Linked DNA regions of Homo sapiens. The protein of the gene in region 5 purifies or fractionates together with the protein of the main gene of each other region. This does not show direct contact. Each region holds a gene or a part of one and is shown on either strand. Other genes may lie near its edges. The genes, in order: CEP97, CAMK2D, ZNF804B, CCP110, CEP76, KIAA0586 and CEP290.

Region 1 (3,500 bases), on a different chromosome or scaffold from region 5:
TACACCAGCACCACCACTATCTAGCTCTTGGCTGCCATTCCTCACGGCCCTGTGCTTTACTCAGAAACTATACAAAACAGCAGAGAGACAGAGAAGGGAGACGCTGTCTGTAATCTACCACCCGTCCTCCCATCAGGAAACTCCTGAAGTAACTACTGTCTGTAGTAGAGAAGAACAAAAAAAGGCGAGGGATAATGTATGTGTTGAGTCCATAATGCATGTGTGTATGTACTGAGAGAAAAAAGTTAAATGAAGCATAGTAGACAGAATAAAGTCATCTCAACTCTCACTATCCCAATTCCACTCCCTCCTTCCCATATCCTAGTTCCTTACCTCCCCTAAAGCTCTCATTCCACTGATCAGGTATCAGGGTCCAGAAGACTCCATTCTGCAGGGATCCCAGCTCCAAGCCACAGAAACTATTAATGATTTACAGGTGGGGGAATTCTTGCTTCTGCTGCTTCACAGGTATAAGAAGGGGAGAACCTGGCCAGGTGCAGTGGCTCATGCCTGTAATCCCAACACTTTGGGAGGCCGAGGCGGGCGCATCACCTGAGGTCAGGAGTTTGAGACCAGCCTAAACAACATGGAAAAACCCTGCCTCCACTAAAAATACAAAATTAGCTGGGTGTGGTGGCACATGCCTATAATTCCAGCTACTTGGGAGGCTGAGGCAGAAGAATCGCTTGAACCCAGGAGGTGGAGGTTGTGATGAGCAGAGATCGCGCCATTGCACTCCAGCCTGGGCAACAAGAGTGAAACTCAGTCTCAAAAAAAATAAAAAGGCTGGGCGCGGTGGCTCACGCCTGTAATCCCAGCACTTTGGGAGGCCGAGGCGGGTGGATCACGAGGTCAGGAGATCGAGACCATACCGGCTAAAACGGTGAAACCCCGTCTCTACTAAAAATACAAAAAATTAGCCGGGCGTAGTGGCGGGCGCCTGTAGTCCCAGCTACTCGGGAGGCTGAGGCAGGAGAATGGCGTGAACCCGGGAGGCGGAGCTTGCAGTGAGCCGAGATCCCGCCACTGCACTCCAGTCTGGGCGACAGAGCGAGACTCCGTCTCAAAAAAAAATAAAAAATAAAAAAATAAAAAAAAAAGAAGAGGAGGACCAATCACCACATCTGCTACTAGTTCCAAATTAAAACTCTGCATTTTCCCAGAGTTATCATTATAATGAGTATTTGGAGAATTCTAAGATACTACTAATACTGCCCTTACATGGCATTTGGAGCTGGATGATAAAATAGAAAATAAAATGAATAAAAAATACGGCCCTTATATATGTGATAGATTAATATATTACAAGCTTTTGTGAGACTGATCTGAGATCCTACACAGGATCTATAACATGATGGTTTCTAAGCAAAAGTGTTCCAAGCTCCAAACAACTGATTAACAAAAGAACTTTTAGAAATCAAATTGTTGTATGTAGGGCACTAAGACTACTAGCTCCAATCTCTGGGGCCGAGATTTCTTCTTTTTTTTTCAGAGACAGGGTCTCACTCTGTCACCCAAGGTAGAGTGCAATGACACAACCATAGCTCACTGTAACCTTAAATTCCTGGGCTCAAGCAATCCTCCCACCTCAGCTTCCTAAGTAGCTAGGACTACAGGTGTGTACCACCACACCCAGCTAATTTTTTTTTTTTTTTGAGATGTGGTCTCCCTATATTGCCCAGGCTGGTCTCAAACTCCTGGGCTCAAGCAATCCTCCTGCCTCGGCTTTCCAAAGTGCAAGGATTACAGGCATGAGCCACTGCACCAGGCCAATATTTATTTCTTATCCTTTTTTAGAAATGACAGAAAATCCTAAATGACCAGCATATAGTCTGCTACATGACTGCACTAATACTCTTGTTATCTAAATGCACATTTTAAGAAATACTCTATTAATCTGTAGTAAACTAGAAATGGTCTTTTCAGTAACATTTGTGATGTTAAAGAGCACATGTTTACCTTTCCTTCTGAGAAATCACATATCCATCTAGGACTCTGAGGTTTAGGCACCAGCTGACGATGTACGGCCGATAGTCAAATCCTGGGATGGATGGTGTTGCCATCACACAAGGATTGTTCATAATCGACAACTGTTCCAATTCAGTTAAGGATGCCAAAAAAGAGATCTGGAACAAAAGATATCTTTGTTGAACAAAAGGACTATTCAGTGTCAAGCACAAAATTTCCACTGATTACATATCTTTGGCAGCATTTGAGAATGTGATAATTTCCCTCTTGTTCTGAAAAGTGACAAGTGTCCATTGACTTCCAAAGTTTCAACAATATAGCCATCTGTCCCTGCTGCACAAAATCCCCTGGCAAATATCAGCACTGTTTCCTAGCAGAAATAACCCTATTTTGAAAACATCACAGCAGCCAGGAAAGGTGGACAGGGAGTCTTATAAACCCTTATAACGTAGATGTCCCTCTACCACCAATCGCCTCCCAGTGGAATGATAATTACAGCTTTACAAAGGAAATTAGACCTTAATGACCCACTGACACTAAGGAAAAGTGGAAAGATCTAGAGCCAAGCATTTCATATGAATGGCAGTTTCTTCCAAGATGCTCACAGTCTAAAAGTAAGCTCACAACCCTCTCCTGTGTCTTTCCTAGGATTTCCAGCTTCCTGAATCTCACAAAATACCCTCAAATTTTACCTCATTTAAGTCTCGGATTTCATTTTCTGCCAAAGAAAGTATAGCAAGACTTCTGGGTAGGTAAGCAGGTGCCATTCTAAGAGAGGTGATGATGTTTCCATGTAAAAGCAGGGTCTTGAAAGTAAAAACAGTATGAATTACAAATGAAAAGATTACAAATAAATTGGCCTATTGTGACAACACCAAAATGGTACATATAAGAATAAAGGAATCTACTTTATTATATTTCTCATCACACACAAATCAAAGACTGTTAATGCTACAAGGGTCCTTGATGATCTTCTGGTCCAACTCTCTGTTTTCATACCAACATCCTAAGCTCATGATATTTTAAAGACTTGTCCAAAAACACATGCTTGGCATAGCAACTAGGCATGCTGTGAGATTTAACTTATGAGACACTGAGCAATTTCTAACACACTTTTTCATTTTCTTTTAAAATATCAAAATAGAGGCCATGTGTGGTGGCTCATGCCTGTAATCCCAGCATTTTGGGAGGCCAAGGAGGGAAGATTGCTTGAGCCCAGGAGTTTGAGACCGGCCTGGGCAACATAGTGAGACCTGGTCTCTACTAAAAATCAAAAAATTAGCCAGGCATGATGAGGTGCACCTGTATTTCCAGCTACTGGGGAGGCTGAGGTAGGGGGATCACTTGAGCCCAGGAGGTCGAGGCTATAGTAAGCCATGACTGCACCACTGCACTCGAGCCTGGGTGACAGCAAGACTCTGATGTCTCAAATTAAAAAAAAAAAAAAAAAAAAGTCATTAAAACAACCACATATAAAGCAAATTTTCCAAAAAAGAGAGTGATAACCTACATCCATAATTGCAACTGTATTC
Region 2 (3,500 bases), on a different chromosome or scaffold from region 5:
AAAAGCCTAAATGCAAATCCTTCTGGAGTACAATTACTGCTTAATCTGTTATCAACTTTTCCTACTCCAGTCTGCAGGAGAACATTCTAGCTCTCTTCTGAGAATTGGTTTTGTCTGAGAGAAAAGCAGGAATGCTGTAAATGCTTCCTGCTGCTTTCTCAGGTTAGGGTGGTTTATGACAGCTGTTGTTCAGTTCATGGACACATGGTCTAGTACGCTGATCTTCATTGTAATCTTTTTGTACATTCTCACCTTTAAAAAATCTGATAAAAAGACCACAGAGCCATGAAAGGTTCATAGAAGTCAGTAGAATTTTATTCAATGAAATCACTCGAAAGCTGTGTCATCTATGTTTACCCTTAAATTATAATTTTTTACATAAAAATTCAAAATTTGGGTGAAGATTAATATTCCTTGAAAATTTCCTTAGAATATACTGATTTGCTACTACATTTCATTTTTCCTACATTCAGCTAGATGACCACTTCATTTGGTGTCTCTCAGCCTTCTGCTGAGACATTTGAGTCCGAGTATATCCTCAGCATTAACAGTAAACCTACATAAAGAGGGCAGCCCAACAGCAAAACAAGAGTTGTATACCCTCGTGAGCAAAGAATAATAACAATAGGAATATTAATGTCAGTGATCAGAATAGTTATACTGCTACCATTTAATTTCTATCAAATATCATTCTAGTCACTCTGTACCCATTAATCCTCACAATATCTTTATTAAGTTGGTATGTTTATTCTCATTTTACAAATATGGAAACTGAGGGTCAGAGGGAAGAGGTAACTTGCTCAGAGCATCAAGACAGTGGTGAGAGAACCCATCATTAAAACAAGGACTATCTGGGTACCCCTTGAGGCTTCTGTTATCAAAAGGGCTTGGCCTCAATTCAACAACTATTTATCAATGATATCTCCATTCCTGGCCTTGGTTTGGGTTTAGGAATGCAATGATGAATACACAGTTCTTGCCCATGGAGACATTATACTGCAGTAGAGGAGACACAAATAGAAATATATTTTCAAAACAATGTGGTTGACAGGAGAGGTAAATACAATCTATTATGTAGGTTTTGAGAGGGAAGGCAAGCCCAGAATAGGGCCTAGGAAGGTTTGCTGTGGAGCATGATGCTGTACACTGAATCTTAGGAAAAAGTAAGAAGTCGGGAAAAGAAGTAGGGGAAGAGACTATTTATTCTAGGTAAGAAACATAAACAACATGAACAGCATAAACAGGCATGTGAGCAAGTGTGATGTTTTTAGCAAATCAAAAGAAGCTGAGCATCCATGTATGCTCAAGTTCAAGCTGGGGAGTAGCAGGAGCTGGGGTGCTTGCCTGTATCCCAGAAATGATAACATCAAAGTGTTACAAGGACAGGTTCGTATTAAAAAAAAAAAAAAAAAGCAGCCATGTGAAGGCTGGATTGGAGGGTACAGTTTAGAGAAGCTTTTAGGAGTCTTAGTTGTTAACTATATTGTTCTCAGCAACATTTTCCCAGAAGAGACCATTGTTTTGCTCACAGAGAACAATTAACTTGCCATTCTCACCAAGTGCAAATTGTTATGTACTAAATGAGACCAGAGTAGGACACACTGCCCTTGACACTGGCCAGCACTATGCAGGCATACATACAGTACCTCTTCTGAAGAAATAAAGATGGACGCACTGTCAGCAGAAATCACAAATTTATTAACTCTTAAATATATCAATCAGTCCTTTACCATTATGGCAAGAAATATATACAGTGTCCCATGGTAAACTGCAGTGTTTCAAAATGATAGAAGATAATAAATGTGTAATTCATTTGTGGTGGAGAGAACAAATCACAATTTCCTCACATCTTAGTGCGGAAGACAAACTTGATCTACAGTAATACTTCAACACCACATGCTAAGTTAAAAGTGTAAAAAAAACACTCTACATCTATTTTTTTTTCTTTAAATACATGTATGCCACGTATAGCTGCTTCACAAAAGGGTAAAAGAAATTAAAAAGAGAAAAATGAGGCCATTATTTTTTCACAGATCTCATTGGCAGGTTAACATGGCTCAATATATTTACTGTATATATTTATTTTAAATATATATGTTGTTTTAAATTGTGTAATAATTATCAGAAAAGCTTCAACCCATCTACCATACATCCACTAGCAATAATATCTAAGATGATTAGTAATCAACACAGAGAGGTGAGATGAGAGAAAAGAGGAAGGGTTGTTTTTGTTATTTTGTTTTTCTTTTTTGCTTCTGCTTTAAAAATAGGCTTCTGAGGACTGTGAATTACTATCGTTAAAATAACAATGATGGAGATTCCATGCACTGTAAAGCACTTCAGGGAAGAGAACAAAAATCACAGGAATTGAATCAACAAAGGAAAAATGAGAAGCACAAAGAAAACCTAGGACATTTCCCTTTTTGTTTTAAACTGGGAAATTCTAACTCCTTGGAGGAAGACAATGATACTCTGATTCAAGAGAGAAGCTAAAAAAGCACAAGTCACAAAGATCAAGTTCAAAACACTTATGAGAATGGCAAACATTTGTAAGCCTCTCTAACACTAGAAAACTAGCTAGTGATGATGCAGAAGTGACCCTTTCATTCCCCAAGGCGGAGGTGAGTGCGTTTGCATAAAACCCCCTCTGCTATCAAGTTGGTATCCTCCTGGCAACTGTCCCAATCAGTAAGACGTTGCAGTCACAGGAGGAACTTGCTTTTATCCTAACTTTAAACAATGCAAATACCTCCAACATAGTTAGGATACCTAAGTCCAAACTAGAGCTTAAGCAGAATTATAAACCTTTAAAATCTTGACAACATTTTTGTGGGCCCTGAAGATGATCAAAAGTGCTAGTATAGCTACCTTCAAAAGACTTTTATTTCCCTTTTACATTCATTATGCAAATTTCACTTCTATTCTTTTCTCACACACTACTAGCCAGCCTCCCCAAAAAAGGAAAAGGGAAAAAAGTAAGAAAAGAATGGAACAAAAGAAAAATAAGAAAGCAAACGAAAGGAACAAAGAAACAGGATAAAGAAAAGAGATCACAGATTTGAGAAAGAAAAACAATTCAATTCAGCAAATTCACCAAAACAATGTGAATATATCCTAAAGTGATTAAACTCAGAAATGATGTGAATTTTTCCAGTTTACACAGTTTGACCAAAAACAGCATGGCTTTATGTGGTAGCAAACCAACTGATTCTTGCTTCTACTTTCATAAGTGATTTTGCCCACATATCATCCCACTTTAATTGTTAATCAGCAAAACTTTCAATGAAAAATCATCCATTTTAACCAGGATCACACCAGGAAACTGAAGGTGTATTTTTTTTTTACCTTAAAAAAAAAAAAAAAAACCAAACAAACCAAAACAGATTAACAGCAAAGAGTTCTAAAAAATTTACATTTCTCTTACAACTGTCATTCAGAGAACAATAGTTCTTAAGTCTGTTAAATCTTGGCATTAACAGAGAAACTTGATGAAGAGTTGT
Region 3 (3,500 bases), on a different chromosome or scaffold from region 5:
AGGGACTAAACCCTCAGCCCCATATAATAACTGCTATTGCTGAGGAAACAGGTTGGCTGGAACTAGTTAAGAGACGGTCAAATTTGATGACCCTTTATAAGATCTGTTACCATTTTTTTGCCATCATTTTATGCACTACCAGTAAATTCACCTCTCTTCTCCCAAAGGGTCACAGAAGAATTGTGTTACCTGGATCATCCTATTCAGAAGCCCTCATTATGAGGAAAAAGGACAAAGAAAAGATTGTCCAGGAGAAGGGTAATGCCAGTGATTTTTTCTTTTTATTTTATTTTTAACTTTCACTTGTCAATTCACCTACTAAAATAAAGTATTTAATAATTCTGTTAAGTGACTTTCCTTCAACCATGAGTCTGTTTAAGCAGAGAGAGCAATTGGCTAAGAGGCAGGTGATGGGCAGTAGACGATAAAAAAAAATTATTTTCCTAGTTTCAGGCTCTATATCTAGAAAGCTGAACACTTGTCTTTTCCATAACAATACGGGCACATTGTGACCTAGAGAGTTTGCCTATTTTATCAAATCACCAAAAGGAGTGGTTAGGTTTGTGTTTGTTTAGTGAATAAGGCTTCCAGAGGGACAGCTGAAACTTAATAGAGTGGACCTTTTTATTTGAAAGAAACTTAATGGGTAGCTCTAGCAAACTTGGAACTTCTAAATAAACCATCATCATCACCATCATTATCATCATCAGCATCATTATCATCATCAGCATCATTATCATCATCACCATCACCATGACCACTGCCATCAGCAAGGCACCTCTGATTCTTTGTTATTTACTCCAGAGGAAAATATAGAATGGGTAAGCAGAAATGTAGAAGTGTGACAACTTTCATAATAACAAACAACCAAAATTATATTTGTTAAGACTATTTAGATTTACTGTTGTGCCCTTAAGGGACCTGTCTAAAGACGTATATCTATGTTAGAACTTGTACCATTTGTTATGATCTGACTTACTGCATCTCCTTATTAATCACAGGAATTAACACTTTCCCTAGATTTTTTCCTGCATGCTACCCTAACAACAATAGAACTTTTCCTTCTAAGCCCTATTTTGGCAAGGACTGAGTTCTCATTAACAGTATGTTTGCACAACATATTGTAAGTCCCTCATTGTGTTGGCTGTAGAAAGCTCAGTACCAAATGTATGCGTTGCTTCTAGAGTTGTATAAGACCCCAGAGCATGCATTTTTGTATTAACCTTACTTCTGGCTACATGTTGTACCTTTATTTTGTCTTCATATGAAATTTCTCATTTCTTGTTAATATGATTATCTTTTATGTATTTTCATAAATTAATTAGATTATTCTAAAAGTTATAAATAAATACATGCAAGCTGAATATTAATTGCATTTTTACTCATAATTGGTCCTACAAAAATAAATGTTTCCTTAAAATTACCTTTTAAGTCTAATATTTTGTGGTAACTAATTGAGCCACTCACTCCTGTTTATTATATATTACTTTCCATTTAAGCAATAGGTGTTTAAATTCTGGCACAGAGGCATAAGTTTCACAATTCACTAGGTTGCTGTCAAACACATTAATTAGCTACATTAGTGTTTTACATTATGATTCATATGAACACAAATCACAATCCACAAATTTAATTGCATTCCAGGTAACAACTTTGAAACATCCAGTGGTTCCAAGCTTTGGTAAAACTGCTATTTTTCAGCTACAAGAATGTATTAGTATAAAACTTGTTATATTATAATTATCAATTTAAATGGCACTGTGTGGTAAATTTAACTGCATTAATTACATCTTGTTTGTCAGCCAGACAATGATCGTGTTATTTGTACTAGACACAGGTGTGTACACGGAAATGTTCAGAAGACTTATTCCCCACCCCCTAAGATATATTGTTAATTATGGTTTTTAAAATTATTATTACAAAATTTAAAAAATATATTAAGAAGTGATATTAATCCATTTAGTCAACTGGATAGAATAAATGCTAATGTATTTGAATCATTCTGGGATCATTTCATTATAGAGTACATTAAATTAACAATATTAGGAAAGAAAAATATCAAAGGCCAAAAGTTATTAATTTATGTATGTTTAACTATATTTGCCCTTCAGACATATCTATTAGTTAGTTATTATTTGTTTACATTGTTACAGTAGATTTGCCTTTAAAATTTCCCCATAGGTTGACGAGAGTTTTGAAGCATCCCAGACACCTTTAATTCTTACCATTCAGATTGCTGCCTTAACTCAGCCAGCTGATGAAGTCGTTTAAGTGCTTTTTCTTGTTTTTTCTCATCTTTCCATGACTTAGAAGCTACATTTCGAGCAAATTCCCGTTGCTTTAATTCTTTCAGTCTCTTGAAAAAGAAGAAAAACCAAAAAGGTACTATAAATAAATAATATATTCTTTTCCATCCACAAGGCTCCTTATTATTCTTTATCCTAAGTGCAGAGGTGACTTTCTGGGCAGAAAGAGTAAAAGTATCTTCTCCATTGTTGCTATTCTCTGCTCCAAGACACATTTAGCAGATAAATGTGTTGTCAACCAGGTTATTTTTCCAAGCTTGTCACAGTCACTGCAAAGCTGGGCCCCAGGCCTCGCTGGTATCACCCTGGCTATGCAAGTATAATAATCTGTGTGCTTATAAAAACACAAATGGGAAAAACATGCAATATATGAATGAGTATGAAGGGAGGCAGGTTATGAGATGCATGTTCTTCCACCCACCTGCCCCTCACTTGTAAAAGTGATGCTATTAAATACACTGGGTGGAATAAGCTTGTTTCAGGAAAGAGCATCTGTTACTGTGAAAGATTTGGTTCAAAGCTCTAAATGTGATTTTGAATTCATTTTTCTGGATGGAGATATTTATCAAATACATATTTCTATATTGTATCCAGGAAGACAGAAAAAAATGAGTCAGGGATTTAAACTCAGAATAGAGGCATGGCCCTGCTTGATTTAAATTCACTCACCACTTATTTTAATTAATATTTTCTCTAAAACAATTGACTTACATGCAAGTAAGACCTCTTCTTAAGAATCTGCCACTAAGCACAGCTAATGATATTGAATGAACTGAGAAACAGCCAAAATCAAATGAACCTCTTGAAGTTTGGGGCTTAATCCTGAATTGGAAGTGTATTTAAAGATTATCCTCTTAACTCATACAAAGTGATTTTAAACAGTCTAAAATCTGTATCTGTTGAAATTATTTTCACTTCCCATATCAAGTATAAGAGATGTTTCCCAGGTATGGAGAAAACTACATAGTTATCATGTGACGTAATAATACTGGAGCCGACTGTTACTCACTTGCAGAGCAAGGGCCAAAACCTTTCATTAGCTTCATTCTTTAAATGAAACATGCTCATGGTAGACAGTGGTGAGATAACTACATCTAAGCTAAGGATTTGAAGAAGAAGGCAGATCGGTCTTTCAAAGAGAGAATATTCTCAGCACAAAGAACAAGAACCTCACGGAATTAGAAACAGCTACAG
Region 4 (3,500 bases), on a different chromosome or scaffold from region 5:
AATCCCTATGTAATGAGTCTTCAGAATCTGATGAAAAAGTCAAAGGAATATATAGAAAGAGAACAATCTAGACGCAGGCTGAGAGGTAGTATTAAGAGAATTGTTAATGAGAGTCATAGTGACTCTCATGTGACATAGTTGAGTTTGGGGTCCTGAGATATTATTTCCCTTTCACAGTAGTATATAGTGTGTGGGTAGTAGATTTCATTTTGCAGATTATAATTACTGTCCATATTAAGTTTAAAAAATGTATTGAGTAGCACTAATTTAACAATAAGAGGTAGGTTTTTTACTTACTACGTATTTCCTGTGATTGAAATGAAAATGGCATATCATTCTTGGTCCATTGAGGGAAGATAAAATATACTACTAATAAAATTGTTAAAAGAGCATGTATAATGTTGAACTGTAATGAATTAATTATTCAGATAGGAAAATTTTATATAATACAATTAGATTTCTGCTTCACCTGTAAAACCTAAGATTCTATGATAGATTTTTTTCTTGTTGTTATTTAACTTGTCTAACTAAAGGCTCATTTTAGTGACGTATAAACAACATAGCTTCCGAATATCACAAATGTGAAATATTTTACGTAAGGAAATCATCTGTTTTACTTAAACCTGTGAACATGTTCATGGATTTCATAAATATGCATCCTTTTTGTTTTATTTTGGTCCTGAGGCTGTGACTAAGTATGTCTTGTACTCTTGTACTGTTGATTGCATAGTACCTGGAAACCTTTTTGCATCTTTTTTGTTTTATTTTGGTTCTGAGGTTGTGACTAAGTATGTCTTATTGTACTGTGTATTGCATAGTACCTGGAAACCATTACCTGTCTTGGGATTTGTAACGTAAAATAGGAGAGCCATGTGGTCTAGAAAAAAACAAGCACATTCAAAACAACCAAAAAATATTGTAATATTCAGACTTTTTTTTTTTTTTTTTTTTTTTTCTGAGATGGAGTCGCGCTCTGTCGCCCAGGCCGGAGTGCAGTGACGTGATCTTGGCTCACTGCAAGCTCCGCCTCCCAGATTCATGCCATTCTCTTGCTTCAGCCTCCTGAGTAGCTGGGACTACAGGTGCCCACCACCAAGCCCAGCTAATTTTTTGTATTTTTAGTAGAGATGGAGTTTCACTGTGTTAGCCAGGATGATCTTGATCTCCTGACCTCATGATCCGCCCGCCTCGGCCTCCCAAAGTGCTGGGATTACAGGCGTGAGCCACCATGCCCCGCCAGTAGTCAGGCTTTTGATGTCTGTATTCATATGATAATACAATGATTTTTGCCAGTTTAATATACGGATGTATAATTACCTTTAGAAACTATCCTAGTTCTCTTTTTATTCTTTTGCAAAGTTGGATTATTTAGATACAAAATATCTATTTTTACATTCATTCATTCATTCATTCATTCATTTTTGAGACAAAGTTTAGTTAAACTTTGGAGTAAGCATGTAGGTGCAGGAGTCTTATTACTGAATCATTTTTGCTTAATCAATGTCCTGGACAAGTTAGTCTTTGTTAGAGAGGGAATCGTTTACGTAAGACATTTCATTACTTGCTGTTTATTGCATATATTATTATCCTTGGATGATAGCTATCCTAGGAGGAACAGTTGGTAATGTTAATAACATATGACTAGAAGAAATTTAAGTGCTTGTATTCTAAGATTAAATTGCACATGGATATATGAATATATGTGTGTGTGTATACACATATATATGTTCATATTTGTATCAGATTAGATGTTTCTTTTTATAACTCTTTTATAACTCTTTTAATAACTTAGGCAGGATGACCAGTAGGCATCTTTTCAATAATAATTTGAGCCCCCTGTGATACAGGATACCGTAGAAACCTGTCATCTTAGTTTTTCTTTATGTTTTGAAATGTCAGAATTCTGAATTTTCAATTTCAATTTTATTTTAGAAAACAGTGAAATCAGAGACTTTTTGTGCAATGAGGAAATATTAATTTTTAAATTTCCTGTTTCAGGTTAGAAAAGCACCTAATGCCAGTGATTTTGATCAGTGGGAGATGGAAACAGTTTACTCTAATTCAGAAGTCAGAAACTTGAATGTTCCTGCTACATTTCCAAATAGCTTTCCAAGCCATACGGAACACTCTACTGCAGCAAAGCTTGATAAGATAGCTGGGATTTTGCCATTGGATAATGAGGACCAATGTAAAACTGATGGAATAGACTTAGCTAGAGATTCAGAAGGATTTAATTCTCCGAAGCAATGTGATAGTTCCAATATTAGTCATGTAGAAAATGAAGCTTTTCCAAAGACCTCTTCAGCAACCCCACAAGAAACTCTTATTTCTGATGGTCCCTTCTCAGTAAATGAACAACAGGATCTACCACTTTTGGCAGAAGTCATCCCAGATCCCTATGTAATGAGTCTTCAGAATCTGATGAAAAAGTCAAAGGAATATATAGAAAGAGAACAATCTAGACGCAGTCTGAGAGGTAGTATCAACAGAATTGTTAATGAGAGTCATTTAGACAAAGAACATGATGCTGTTGAAGTGGCTGACTGTGTAAAAGAGAAAGGCCAGTTGACAGGCAAACACTGTGTCTCAGTTATTCCTGACAAACCAAGCCTTAATAAATCAAATGTTCTTCTCCAAGGTGCTTCCACTCAAGCAAGCAGCATGAGTATGCCAGTTTTAGCTAGCTTTTCGAAAGTGGACATACCTATACGAACTGGCCATCCCACTGTTCTAGAGTCTAATTCTGATTTTAAAGTTATTCCCACTTTTGTTACCGAAAATAATGTTATCAAAAGTCTTACAGGTTCATATGCCAAATTACCTAGTCCAGAGCCAAGTATGAGTCCTAAAATGCACCGAAGACGTTCCAGGACATCATCAGCGTGTCATATACTTATAAATAACCCAATAAATGCCTGTGAATTAAGCCCTAAAGGAAAAGAACAGGCAATGGACTTAATTATTCAAGATACTGATGAAAACACAAATGTGCCCGAAATTATGCCAAAGTTACCAACTGATTTAGCGGGAGTTTGTTCAAGCAAGGTTTATGTGGGCAAAAATACATCTGAAGTCAAAGAAGATGTGGTTTTAGGTAAATCAAATCAGGTATGTCAATCTTCAGGAAATCATTTAGAAAATAAAGTTACTCATGGACTTGTTACTGTGGAAGGTCAGTTAACATCCGATGAGAGAGGCGCACACATAATGAACAGTACCTGTGCTGCGATGCCAAAGCTGCATGAACCATATGCCAGCAGTCAGTGTATAGCAAGTCCAAACTTTGGAACTGTGAGTGGACTCAAGCCAGCCAGTATGTTAGAGAAAAACTGCAGTTTGCAAACAGAACTGAATAAGTCTTATGATGTAAAAAACCCTTCTCCTTTATTGATGCAAAACCAGAATACGAGACAGCAGATGGACACACCTATGGTGTCCTGTGGAAATGAACAATTTTTGGATAACAGTTTTGAGAAAGTTAAACGGAGACTTGATTTAGA
Region 5 (3,500 bases):
GGCTGGGCGCGGTGACTCACGCCAATATCCCAGCACTTTGGGAGGCCGAGGCGGGCAGATCACGAGGTCAAGAGATCGAGACCATCCCGGCCAACATGGTGAAACCCCATCTCTACTAAAAATACAAAAATTAGCTGGGTGTGGTGGTGCATGCCTGTAGTCCCAGCTACTTAGCAGGCTGAGCCAGTATAATCGCTTGAACCCAGGAGGCGGGGGTTGCAGTGAGCCGAGATTGCAGCACTGCACTCCAGCCTGGTGACAGAGCGAGACTCCATCTCAAATAATAATAATAATAATAATAATCTAAATTACTAAGGCTATGCTGTCCACTGGCAAGGTTTAACTCTGTGACTAAGTTTAAAAACCAAAGTAATTCCATTATATGTTATAGATAAAACATTGGTAGGTTTTGTTTTCTCATTTTATTAGCAAGTATGTGTTACATAGCGGGCAGTGTGCAAGATTCCAAGGAGACTATGATAAATAAGATAGGCACCAGCTCTGCCCTCAAGGACTAGTTGATACTAACACTGAGCAAATTATTTCCTCTTCCGAGTCTCACTCACCCACACTGTAAAAGGTTGGGAGAACATCTACTCTGTATTTTGCAAGAATCACTGGTACCAAAGGGGATGTATTCCAGGGTGTGATGACTGGACACACATAAGTTTGTATGTGTGTCAAGAATATTAATTTTCTTTATAGCCTTATATTTAATCAAATGAACTTGAAATTAAAACCCTCAAAATTCCTGTATTCATTTTCCAGAAAAAAACATTTCTCCTAAGACAAGGTCAGATTGACCATGAAGTGCTATACTGATATTATTCTTCAAGACATTTCTCAAGATTAGGATGCTGAGGTCCAATTGTAACTCTAACGAAATTCTATTTTACAGGTTTCCCTCTTGGATTATAAAAGCATTTTAAAGATATAAAATATATTTACAAATGAACTGTGGCTATAAAAAGGTTAACAATGATATATTAATCACCATACCTACACCCATAAGTTCCACAGTCAGACTGGTCACTCCATTTTCTGAGCCCAAAACCGATCGCCATTCCAGAAAATATGATGCTACTAAAGTCGTCTCACCAAATATGTCTGTTTTGATTAGCACCATATGAATTGGATCACTTATTGATAACATTGTTGTTGAATCAGCCATTCTAGTTCCATCACCTAGCAATATAATCCAAACGAAATTATACCACACTACATATTCAGTTAGGCCAACATAAAAGAATACTTTTATTAAACAGTAAATAATAAGCTTATATAAAACCAAAGAGAACAATTTGCTAATGTCTCAGAAAGCATGCAAAAAACTGGAAATACAAGTACAGTCCTATTTCTATCACTAACTTTTCAGAAGACTGGCAAATTGTGATGAGTTATCCAGTAACTTACAGCATATCAGTGCTTTCTGATTCATAAGATAAGTCTGTTCTTTAAAAGTACTTAACTAAAGTATATGCTACTACAATAAAAAGCCTTCAAGTATGTCAATATTAATCCCCAAACTACCTCAAGAAATCCCTTTAACCTCCAGAAATTATCACTGTATAATTGACATACAACTGAAAAATACAGCACATCGAATCTAGCAATTTATCCTATTAATTGCCTTATTAAGGTAACATCTTTCAAAGGGAAAAAAATAAATTTTAGTAATGTTTCAGTCATCTTTAAATCTAAAATTGTGAAGACATTCTGAAACTTTGCTTAGTTTACAAATATAAAGATTTCCATACTGACAATTACAAAATACAAAATACCTTTACTGAAAGAAACATAGTGTAAAACAATTACAGGAATCAAGTAGCATAAAATTTAGTTATGAGAATTACATGCTTTATTGGAGAAATAAGAAAAAAAAGAAAAAATTAAAATGACAGTTATATGTTCACATCTAAATTTGACTTTTTATTTTATTTATATTTATTTGTAAGTATTTATAAAAATTTATTAGAAGTTTTTATAAATAATTTATAAATATTTATTCATTTATTTATTTATTTAAACAGAGTCTCACTCTGTTGCCCAGGCTGGAGTGCAATGGGGTGATCTCGGCTCATTACACGCGCCTGCCACCATGCCCGGCTAGAAATTTTGTATTTCTAGTAGAGACAGGGTTTCGACATGTTGGCTAGGCTGGTCTCAAACTCCTGACCTCAGGTGACCCACCTGCCTTGGCCTCCCAAAGTGCTGGGATTACAGGCATGAGCCACCACACCCAGCCTATTTTTTATTTTTTGTAGAGACAATGTCTCACTTTGCCCAGACTTGTCTTGAACTCCTGGCTTCAAATGATTCTCTCACCTAGACCTCCCAAAGTGTTGGGATTTCAGCTGTGAGTCACCGTGCTCAGCCTAAACTTCGACTTTTAAAAGTTACATAACATCATCAATCTGGTTATATTTTATAAATGAGAAGGACCATGTCTCATTTTCCACTATATCATCCCAGCACCTGCCTAGCATAACACTATGCACATAATAGGTATTTAAGTGTGTATTACTAAAGAATCAACAATGAAAACAGTCAAAAAATAATATCCAGGGAAAATGAATAGCAAACAGAATATTGCAAGAAGGTGGATAGTAGTTTAAATTGAAAAGAGCAGTGGGAAACAAAATAGAGATTCCTCCATTATAAATCTCTCCTTACAGAAAAAGTCATTATTATTGTTTCACAATAAAACATAACAAAGATTTACTCAATTAAATGACAATTTATTACTGTTTCTTACCCAAGCTTTCTCTGTGTACTTCAAGTAAAAAGCCATCATGAAAATCTGGTTCACAGGCACATGGAACAGGTTTAGAACGAAAACGTTGGTTTCGATAATGTAAACATAAAGTAAACGTTGAACAAACTTGTCCAGGTAAAGGCTCAGGTTCTTGCAGATGTTCCAAGAAAGCTTTTCCACCCAAAACCTGAAGGTAAAGATACCTCCGTGTTGGATCAATATTAGCTGTAAAGTGTAGCAATATATATGAGGAAACTGCCAAATAACTTAAAAGAATGTGATCAAGACATTAGGAAATAAAAACTTGACAGATAAAAACCCAATACCAAAGACTAAAAAAAAAGCAAAAGAGTAACAAATTTATTACTGTATATGCCAGAATCATTTGCACTCTGGGGAGAAGATACACAAAATATGATATTCTTTTCTGAGTTTACATCCAGGCTACTTTCTCCCAGCTGGAAAAGGCATCAGAGCCAATATGTAGTATACTTTTGCTTTTTAACTGCTTATCCAACATTCCTCCACCTTCACAAACCAACTCATATAATTATCAATTCAGCAAGTGTATTTGTCAATTATATTAATATTTAAAAGCAAGGCTGTACAGTTTTTATAAAACATATTATTAAAACACAAGAAACTGGTGATGCTGTTTTTGCTTCTACCGTGCTATACATTAACTCTTCTGATATACTTCATGCAAAACAATCTGTTTTAGCCAACCATAAAATTTTAAGTATTT
Region 6 (3,500 bases), on a different chromosome or scaffold from region 5:
ACTATCAATTTTAGCTGCAGGGTGGAAGTCAATCTATGAGAACGAAGTGTTTGTGGAGCTACATGGGTGATTTCTAAGTCCCTGGGAATCTCTCAGGCTGGTGGGTTGAGGCTGTTCTGTATAAATTTGTGCAGAAGAAATGGATAGTTCGTTTGTTCAGGGAGGAGTGTCCAGTCAAAAATCAGTACTAAGAGCCTGTTGACTGTTCATGTGGTGGCATCCGACAGCTCCAGGATTATCTTCTCCTCAGTGATCAGGATCCAAGAATGAGGCAAGTCTTCTCTCTTCCCAGAGGGCATACTAAGTTGCCCAAGAAAACTCATTTGTCCTGGCTCAATCAAAAGAGGAACCTTGGAGCAGTCTAAGGACTGGAGTGTTCTAATTATTTGTAAGTAAGCAAGGATGGTAAGACGAATACAGGAGTTGGAGTAAATCAGCCAAAAAGTTTACCACAGTTCATGAATGCTTTCCTACAGTTGCCTCCTGACTGGTCAATAGAAAGTCGCATGTAAATACTCATGTTCACCTTTGTCCAGACCTAGTGAAGACCTCAGCTTCTACAGCTGGATCCCAGGCCGAAGGGTAGATGTTTGTGAAATGTCAAAGGGTTTCTTCCCACATGAGCCTGTTGAAGTCTTGTATTCATTCAAGTCTTCTAACATATGTTAGTGTAAAGTTTGAAGTATTAATTATATAAGTCACATATATTAACTTTTTAAAATTAATTATAATACACAGTTCAATTGTTCCCCTTGGAATATCACCAAGCCACTTGTATATAAGTCATTGGCCTAGAAGAGCAGCTTAAATCATGCAAAACAGGACAGAAACATCATATTAATATCACAGTTTTAAAAATAACAGAGCCAGCGGGGCATGGTGGCTCATGCCTGTAATCCCAGCACTTTGGGAGGCCAATGCAGGTGGATTCACCTGAGGTCAGGAGTTTGAGACAAGCCTGGCCAACATATGAAACCCCATCTCTACTAAAAAAAAATACAAAAAATTAGCTGGGCATGGTGGCGGGCGCCTGTAATCCCAGCTACTCAGGAGGCTGAGGCAGGAGAATCACTTGAACCCAAGAGGCAGAGGTTGCAGTGAGCCGAGATTGCGCCATTGCCCTCCAGACTGGGCGACAAGAGCAAAACTCTGTCTAAAAAATAAAAATAAATTTAAAAAAAAGAGTCATGATCAAAAGCAATATTTTTATGAAGCAATATAATGGATTTCCGTACTAACGTTAAGCAAAAAAATTTTTTCTTCCTTAAAATTTTCTACTCATGCACCCTGGCATACCTGCACAGTAAGCTGAGGAGGATCCTTTTTTTCTGACTTCATTTCTACAATGGCTATGTTAGGTTTCTTTACTCCAGTTTCTACTTTTCGAGATGATGGAGGAATAGAAGTAGTCACAGTTACAGGGTGTGGCTTGCTGACAATCACTCCAGCAGGTGGCATGGTATCACTATTACTTTGGGTTTGTCCTAAGAAGTTTAGGAGAAAAAATAAGTCAACTAGTTCAGAAAAAAAGGGAAAAGTCTAATATACCATCTGGATCTTAATGGCTATATTCTCATATTTAAAAAAGCCCTATCTGACAATCACCCCTCCCTCCATCATCAGCACTGTCGACATACTCACCATACCCAGTGACTTTTATTAAGCACTTATATGTACTCAACGCTTCACATCACTATCTAATTTAAACCTCAAAATAAAGGCTAATAGAAAGCTATTAATACTATCCACATTTTAAAATGTCAAAAACTTTCACTTCCAAAGTCCCACTTGACTTCTACATATCAAAGTAAAGAGGGGTAGTACAGTGTACTTGTTGAAAACACAGACTATAAAGCCAGACTGCCTCTGCCTGGGTTTGAATCCTGGCACCATTCTAGCTGTGTAGCCTTTGACAAATTATGTAACCCTTTTGTGCTTCAGTTTTCTTAGCTATACAATTTGTATATTACCATGTGCTTTATAGGGTGGATTAAATGAGAGAATATATGTAAAGTGCTCAGAACTGTACCGGGCACACAGTAAGAACTTTAAAAGTGTGAGCTATTTTATTACTAGGAGATATGTTTAAACAGAGAGCTATTATGTTGACATGAAATTAACCCATAATATCAAAAATAAAAAAGTCTCTTACATTAAAAAATATTCATACTTAAATTGTTAATCAAAACAAAAGAACAGCAATGACACTAAAGGGAAAAAAGAGCTAATTAGACTTGAACAGCTGGTGTGAGGACAAAAATGATCTGTTCAATTTTTAACATGAAGACTCAGAGAGAAGGCAAATAAGTAAATAAACAACTATTGGCTTAGATTACACACCCACACAGCTTTCACTTATGATAGCCTAGTTCAAAAGTACAAAAAAAAGTACCTTAATACTTCCCCAAAGACATAATGATATTAACAAGATAATCAAACTTATTGAATTATTATGAATGTCCATGACATATTTAAACTTTCTTTTTTAAGAGACAGGGTCTTGCTGTGTTGTCCAGGCTGGAGTACAGTGGCATAATCATTGCTCACTGCAGCCTCAAACTCCTGGACTGAAGGGATTCTCCTGCTTCAGCCTCCAGAGTAGCTAGGACTACAGGTGTTAGCCATCAAGCCCAGCTAATTTTTTTTTTTGAGACAAGGTCTTGCTATGTTGCCCAGGCTGGTCTCAAACTCTTGGTCTCAAGCAATCCTCCCATCTCGGCTTCCCAAAGTACTGTGATTAAAGGCATGAGCCACTGTGCCCAGCCAAAATATTGTTTAAAATTTCATTTCATCTACAATAATATAACATACCAAAAGAATTTTTCCTATTGGTGAAACTACAGCAGGAACCCATCATTTCAGAGATTGCTATTACACAGCATAAAATACATTGTGAGGCCTTCCCCACAAAAACAAATAACATTTACAAGAAAAGGTAGATGACTATCATGTTAGTACCATTTTGTAAGTTCTGCTACTGCTGATAAGAATTTAAAATTCAATGGCTGGGCACGGTGCCTCACGCCTGTAATCCCAGCACTTTGAGAGGTTGAGGTGGGTGGACTGCTTGAGTCCAGGAGTTCCAGACCACTCTGAGCCACACAGTGAAACCCCGTCTCTAATAAACACACAAACAAACAAATAAATAAATAAAATAAAATCCATCCCACATATTTTGTTGATTCTTACCTAAAAGAATTGCCATAGGAATCAGATGACCTTCCAATGTACCTGAAAAAGTAGGCATTTCTCTACTTGGGCTGAACAAATATTGCTGATCGCCATGAGGTAACACAGGAACAGAATGTTTCATTTTAGAATCCATCTTCTTAGGTTTTGTTGCATAGAAGTCAGTCTGTGTTCTTATTGACTTTACCTTAGTGCCTATAATAATCACCAATGGCAGATATTTTAAAATATTGTTAGAATATCTACTATCCAGACATCTAGAAATACAACAGCTCTTCACAGAAAAATCTTAATTCTATATAAGGTTACAA
Region 7 (3,500 bases), on a different chromosome or scaffold from region 5:
TTTCAAATTTTAAAATTATTGTTGGCTGGAAAAATTATAAGGATGATTGTAATCATGGTTATTTGTTTATTCTGTATATGTTCTACATGCCTATTATGTGCCTTATATAGTACTAAGGACTGAGCATATGGTTGTGAACAAAATAAGAAGTTAACTGCTGGATGGAGCTTATAGTCTTGGGAAATATACAGAAAGATTACTAGTAACTGAGGTGGAGGGTGGGTGGGGATTTGAGGAATAGTGACGAAAGGGTGTTATAGAAGTAATTTTTGACAAAGCTGAAGGCTAAAATATGAATGTATTGTTGAAGAACAAAATACATTGAGATTCCTGAGAAGGTAGGAATGTGATACAAATGGATCAGCCTTTGAAAGGAGGAATACCCTTTTCCTTTGTGTTAGGAGAGGAGGATGAGTGGATGAGCGTGGGAAGAGTGGATGTGTATAGAGGCTTTTATGTTTGTAGGCATAATGCTTGGAAGTTGAGGGGTTGGTGATGACATCTTCTGTTAAAAAGAGTGGGAAATGGTGTGGTCACATTTTAAGGAAATTAGGTAAAATTTGAAATATATTGGAGACAGGACTGGAGAGTTGGGGATCTGGAGTCAGACAGATTTGAGTTCTAGTCCTGATTCTTCTACTCGTTAACTCTCTGAACTTGGATGACCTATTGTTTTTGATTGTATATCCAGCTCCTGGGAAAATGCCAAGCACTTTCAATAAATACTAAATGAATTATGGAGTTGGATCAGTTCTGTGTTAGTGTTTAGCTAGGTAGCTGCTGTAGAATAGAAGGGTAGCACAGTTGAAGATATTGGTAGGAAAGTGGTTGAAGTGATGATTATGAAGTCTTAACTGAATAGATAAAATCAAGATTGGGGTTGGGTGGGCAGAAGGGTAGGGATATGGAGGGAGAAGATGAGGGGTTAGAGTGTCCTGTGAGGTCGAAGGACAGGCATAGTGGGAATAATTGAAAGAATGTTCTGGTTGGACAAGGATCTGATGTGGGTGTGGGAGTGAGAGACTATAGTGAATTCAAGAAAAAAATAGACTAGAACAAAAGTTATGTGGAGATTGCTTAGTGGGCATTTGATAGACATCTGTGGGCCACATGCTTAAATTCCCAGTGCATTTTGCGGAGTTACTGGAAGGTTGGTGGCTTGTTTCTACCATGAGTAGGTAAAGATGGAGAGCAGGATATTTTGTGAGAAAGCAGCTGAAGTTTCTATAGGATGATGGAGGAATGATAGGAATGATCACCTGAAGTTGCAGGGTGGGGTAAACCTAGAAGCACCAACACCTTCTTCTGACCCTCATGTATTTGGAATCTGAAAGAATGAGCACCTTCCAATTGAAAGAGTTCCAAGGGCATTAGTATACTAAAGGATCCAAATTGCAGCTAAGCCAAGGAGATGGAAAGGAGGATTCAGTAAAGAATCTGAGGATGTGAAATATTAATTTATCTTGGAAGAGAATTTTAGAGAGCACAATGGAATGCTTTTTGGAGGAGAGAAAGAGTAAGAACAATTTGGTTAAGGTAGAGGAATAACAGAACTATAAGGTGAAGAAATGAATGTGAGACACATTAGATGACCAAATGATTTGATGTTCTTGGCCATGACCTGAATTAACAAGACTGTGAGGTAAAATGGATTTAATCGGCTACAAATCTTAAGATAACCAAAACCTGAGCTGTTTAATATGGTAGCACTAGCACTAACCACTTGTAGCTATTTATATTTACATTGGTTAAAATTAAAATGAAAAATTTAGTTCTTCAGTTGCACTAGCCACACTTCAAATGCCCGAACATAGCTACATGTAGCGAGTGGCTATTGAACTGGACAGCACTGACAGCATGTCCATTATGCTAGAAAGTCCTATGGGACAGCACTGGTCTAAACAGTGCATGGTATGAGAGAAAGGGCAGGTTAAGGCACTCAGCTTCACTGACTGGGGTGGAGATTCTGATGGTTTGTACTCAGGTTCCAGATCCCTGAGGCTCAGGAACCTTTGCAGTTTAGTCTGGTTACCTGTGGCCCAGTGGTTACAACAGAATGATTAACAGTCAATTCTTTGCATCTCTGGGTGGCTCAGGAAAAATTTAAGGAGTTATTAGCTGTGAACTAACCTTAAGTAAGTTAAATTAAAAAAAAAAAAGTTCTTAAGCTAATATGATTTTAAATATCTGCACTGAAGTATAATGCAAATTTAAATTCAGCATAATTATTTGCTTGTTGTTGACTCATTTGAACCTCAAAATATAATGGGATTAATTTATACTTTGGGTTTATTACTTTAAGATGGCTCAGCAGTCTGCAGGTGGACGAGATACTCGGTTTTTACGTAATGAAATTTGCCAACTTGAAAAACAATTAGAACAAAAAGATAGAGAATTGGAGGACATGGAAAAGGAGTTGGAGAAAGAGAAGAAAGTTAATGAGCAAGTAAAGCACTTTTTTTTTCCATGAATCTTCACTGTTCAAGTTACCTGGCTTTTTATTATTATTGGTAACAATATCAATTTTTATATTGTATGTTATATTTGAAAAATGATGTACACTTATCTCTAAGGTTTTATATCACTGTTCATTTTGTCATCACCAATTTTAAAATATAATGGTACTTCTAGTGAATATGACTTGAAGATTAATTCTTTATATTTGGAAGTACATTTTTCTCAGGACATCAAACTTGTTACCTAAAATTAATGCTTTTGTCTGGAAGATTGGTATCAAGTAACTAATAGATTTTCATAAAGAAGTGATCTTTCTAGTGCCATAGTTTATTTTGGGTAAAAGTTATATTTGTTCATTTCAATGTATTTATATGATTAGTAGATTCGCAAATGAATCTTTCGATATATTCAATAATGGTTAATTAAATATCTTGTTTTTGGTTGTACCTTATTTTATGTGAGATATATATATATATGTATAGTTTTTGAAAAGTTGTGTTCATGTCAGCAGTTTATAAATCACATATTTAAAATAACATTTTTAATGCATAGTTTTTATTACCTCGTTATTCCTTGTTATAAACTAATAATTCTTGCAGTGTTCACTTGAATTTAGTTTTAGGAAAAAAGTTTTTTGCAGATCAACTTGTATTTCCTGGAAGAAAATTTCCTATTTTACCTCAGCTTCCTATTTAATGTATTATTTATTTATTTACTTAACATTTATTTGTTTTTTATTTCACCTGAACTGTTAGTAAACTTAGTAAAATTTGGTGCCTACATGTGGTAACTGTCCTGTCCCTTATACTCAGAAACGTTTTCCACCTTTGTGTCCTTTAGGTCATTGTTGTGTTATATTCCATTTATTTTATTTTGTCCATTGTTCTCTCAGAAATTGAGGGTCATACATTTTAAGAAAACAATGATATGCTATTTAAGAGAATGTATCATAAATTGATTTGTAAGGAAAAGTATCCCCATTCTTCATGTATGTATTTTACTCTAAAATGTTGAAGAATCATATAGAAGTTAGCTATGAAAAC

Evidence for each region.
Region 1: the proteins of CEP76 (region 5) and CEP97 purify together in Homo sapiens (co-immunoprecipitation; 4 studies listed by BioGRID and IntAct, with this or other methods). This does not show direct contact.
Region 2: the proteins of CEP76 (region 5) and CAMK2D purify together in Homo sapiens (affinity purification with mass spectrometry, with the first as the bait; one large-scale study listed by BioGRID). This does not show direct contact.
Region 3: the proteins of CEP76 (region 5) and ZNF804B purify together in Homo sapiens (affinity purification with mass spectrometry, with the first as the bait; one large-scale study listed by BioGRID). This does not show direct contact.
Region 4: the proteins of CEP76 (region 5) and CCP110 purify together in Homo sapiens (co-immunoprecipitation; 4 studies listed by BioGRID and IntAct, with this or other methods). This does not show direct contact.
Region 6: the proteins of CEP76 (region 5) and KIAA0586 purify together in Homo sapiens (co-immunoprecipitation; one study listed by IntAct). This does not show direct contact.
Region 7: the proteins of CEP76 (region 5) and CEP290 purify together in Homo sapiens (co-immunoprecipitation; 5 studies listed by BioGRID and IntAct, with this or other methods). This does not show direct contact.

The regions. Positions count from the first base shown.
Region 1 is NC_000003.12:101,731,114-101,734,613, reverse strand, and holds part of CEP97 (centrosomal protein of 97 kDa), read right to left. Parts: intron 2,775-3,500; coding exon 2,661-2,774; intron 2,127-2,660; coding exon 1,960-2,126; intron 1-1,959. UniProt on the Homo sapiens protein: Acts as a key negative regulator of ciliogenesis in collaboration with CCP110 by capping the mother centriole thereby preventing cilia formation. Required for recruitment of CCP110 to the centrosome.
Region 2 is NC_000004.12:113,450,739-113,454,238, forward strand, and holds the end of CAMK2D (calcium/calmodulin-dependent protein kinase type II subunit delta), read right to left. Parts: 3' UTR 294-3,500; downstream 1-293. UniProt on the Homo sapiens protein: Calcium/calmodulin-dependent protein kinase involved in the regulation of Ca(2+) homeostatis and excitation-contraction coupling (ECC) in heart by targeting ion channels, transporters and accessory proteins involved in Ca(2+) influx into the myocyte, Ca(2+) release from the sarcoplasmic reticulum (SR), SR Ca(2+) uptake and Na(+) and K(+) channel transport.
Region 3 is NC_000007.14:89,326,200-89,329,699, reverse strand, and holds part of ZNF804B (zinc finger protein 804B), read right to left. Parts: intron 2,357-3,500; coding exon 2,226-2,356; intron 1-2,225.
Region 4 is NC_000016.10:19,533,942-19,537,441, forward strand, and holds part of CCP110 (centriolar coiled-coil protein of 110 kDa), read left to right. Parts: intron 1-1,998; coding exon 1,999-3,500.
Region 5 is NC_000018.10:12,696,224-12,699,723, forward strand, and holds part of CEP76 (centrosomal protein of 76 kDa), read right to left. Parts: intron 2,981-3,500; coding exon 2,756-2,980; intron 1,186-2,755; coding exon 1,000-1,185; intron 1-999. UniProt on the Homo sapiens protein: Centrosomal protein involved in regulation of centriole duplication. Required to limit centriole duplication to once per cell cycle by preventing centriole reduplication.
Region 6 is NC_000014.9:58,465,719-58,469,218, reverse strand, and holds part of KIAA0586 (protein TALPID3), read right to left. Parts: intron 3,385-3,500; coding exon 3,190-3,384; intron 1,485-3,189; coding exon 1,297-1,484; intron 1-1,296. UniProt on the Homo sapiens protein: Required for ciliogenesis and sonic hedgehog/SHH signaling. Required for the centrosomal recruitment of RAB8A and for the targeting of centriole satellite proteins to centrosomes such as of PCM1.
Region 7 is NC_000012.12:88,135,589-88,139,088, reverse strand, and holds part of CEP290 (centrosomal protein of 290 kDa), read left to right. Parts: intron 1-2,302; coding exon 2,303-2,446; intron 2,447-3,500. UniProt on the Homo sapiens protein: Involved in early and late steps in cilia formation. Its association with CCP110 is required for inhibition of primary cilia formation by CCP110.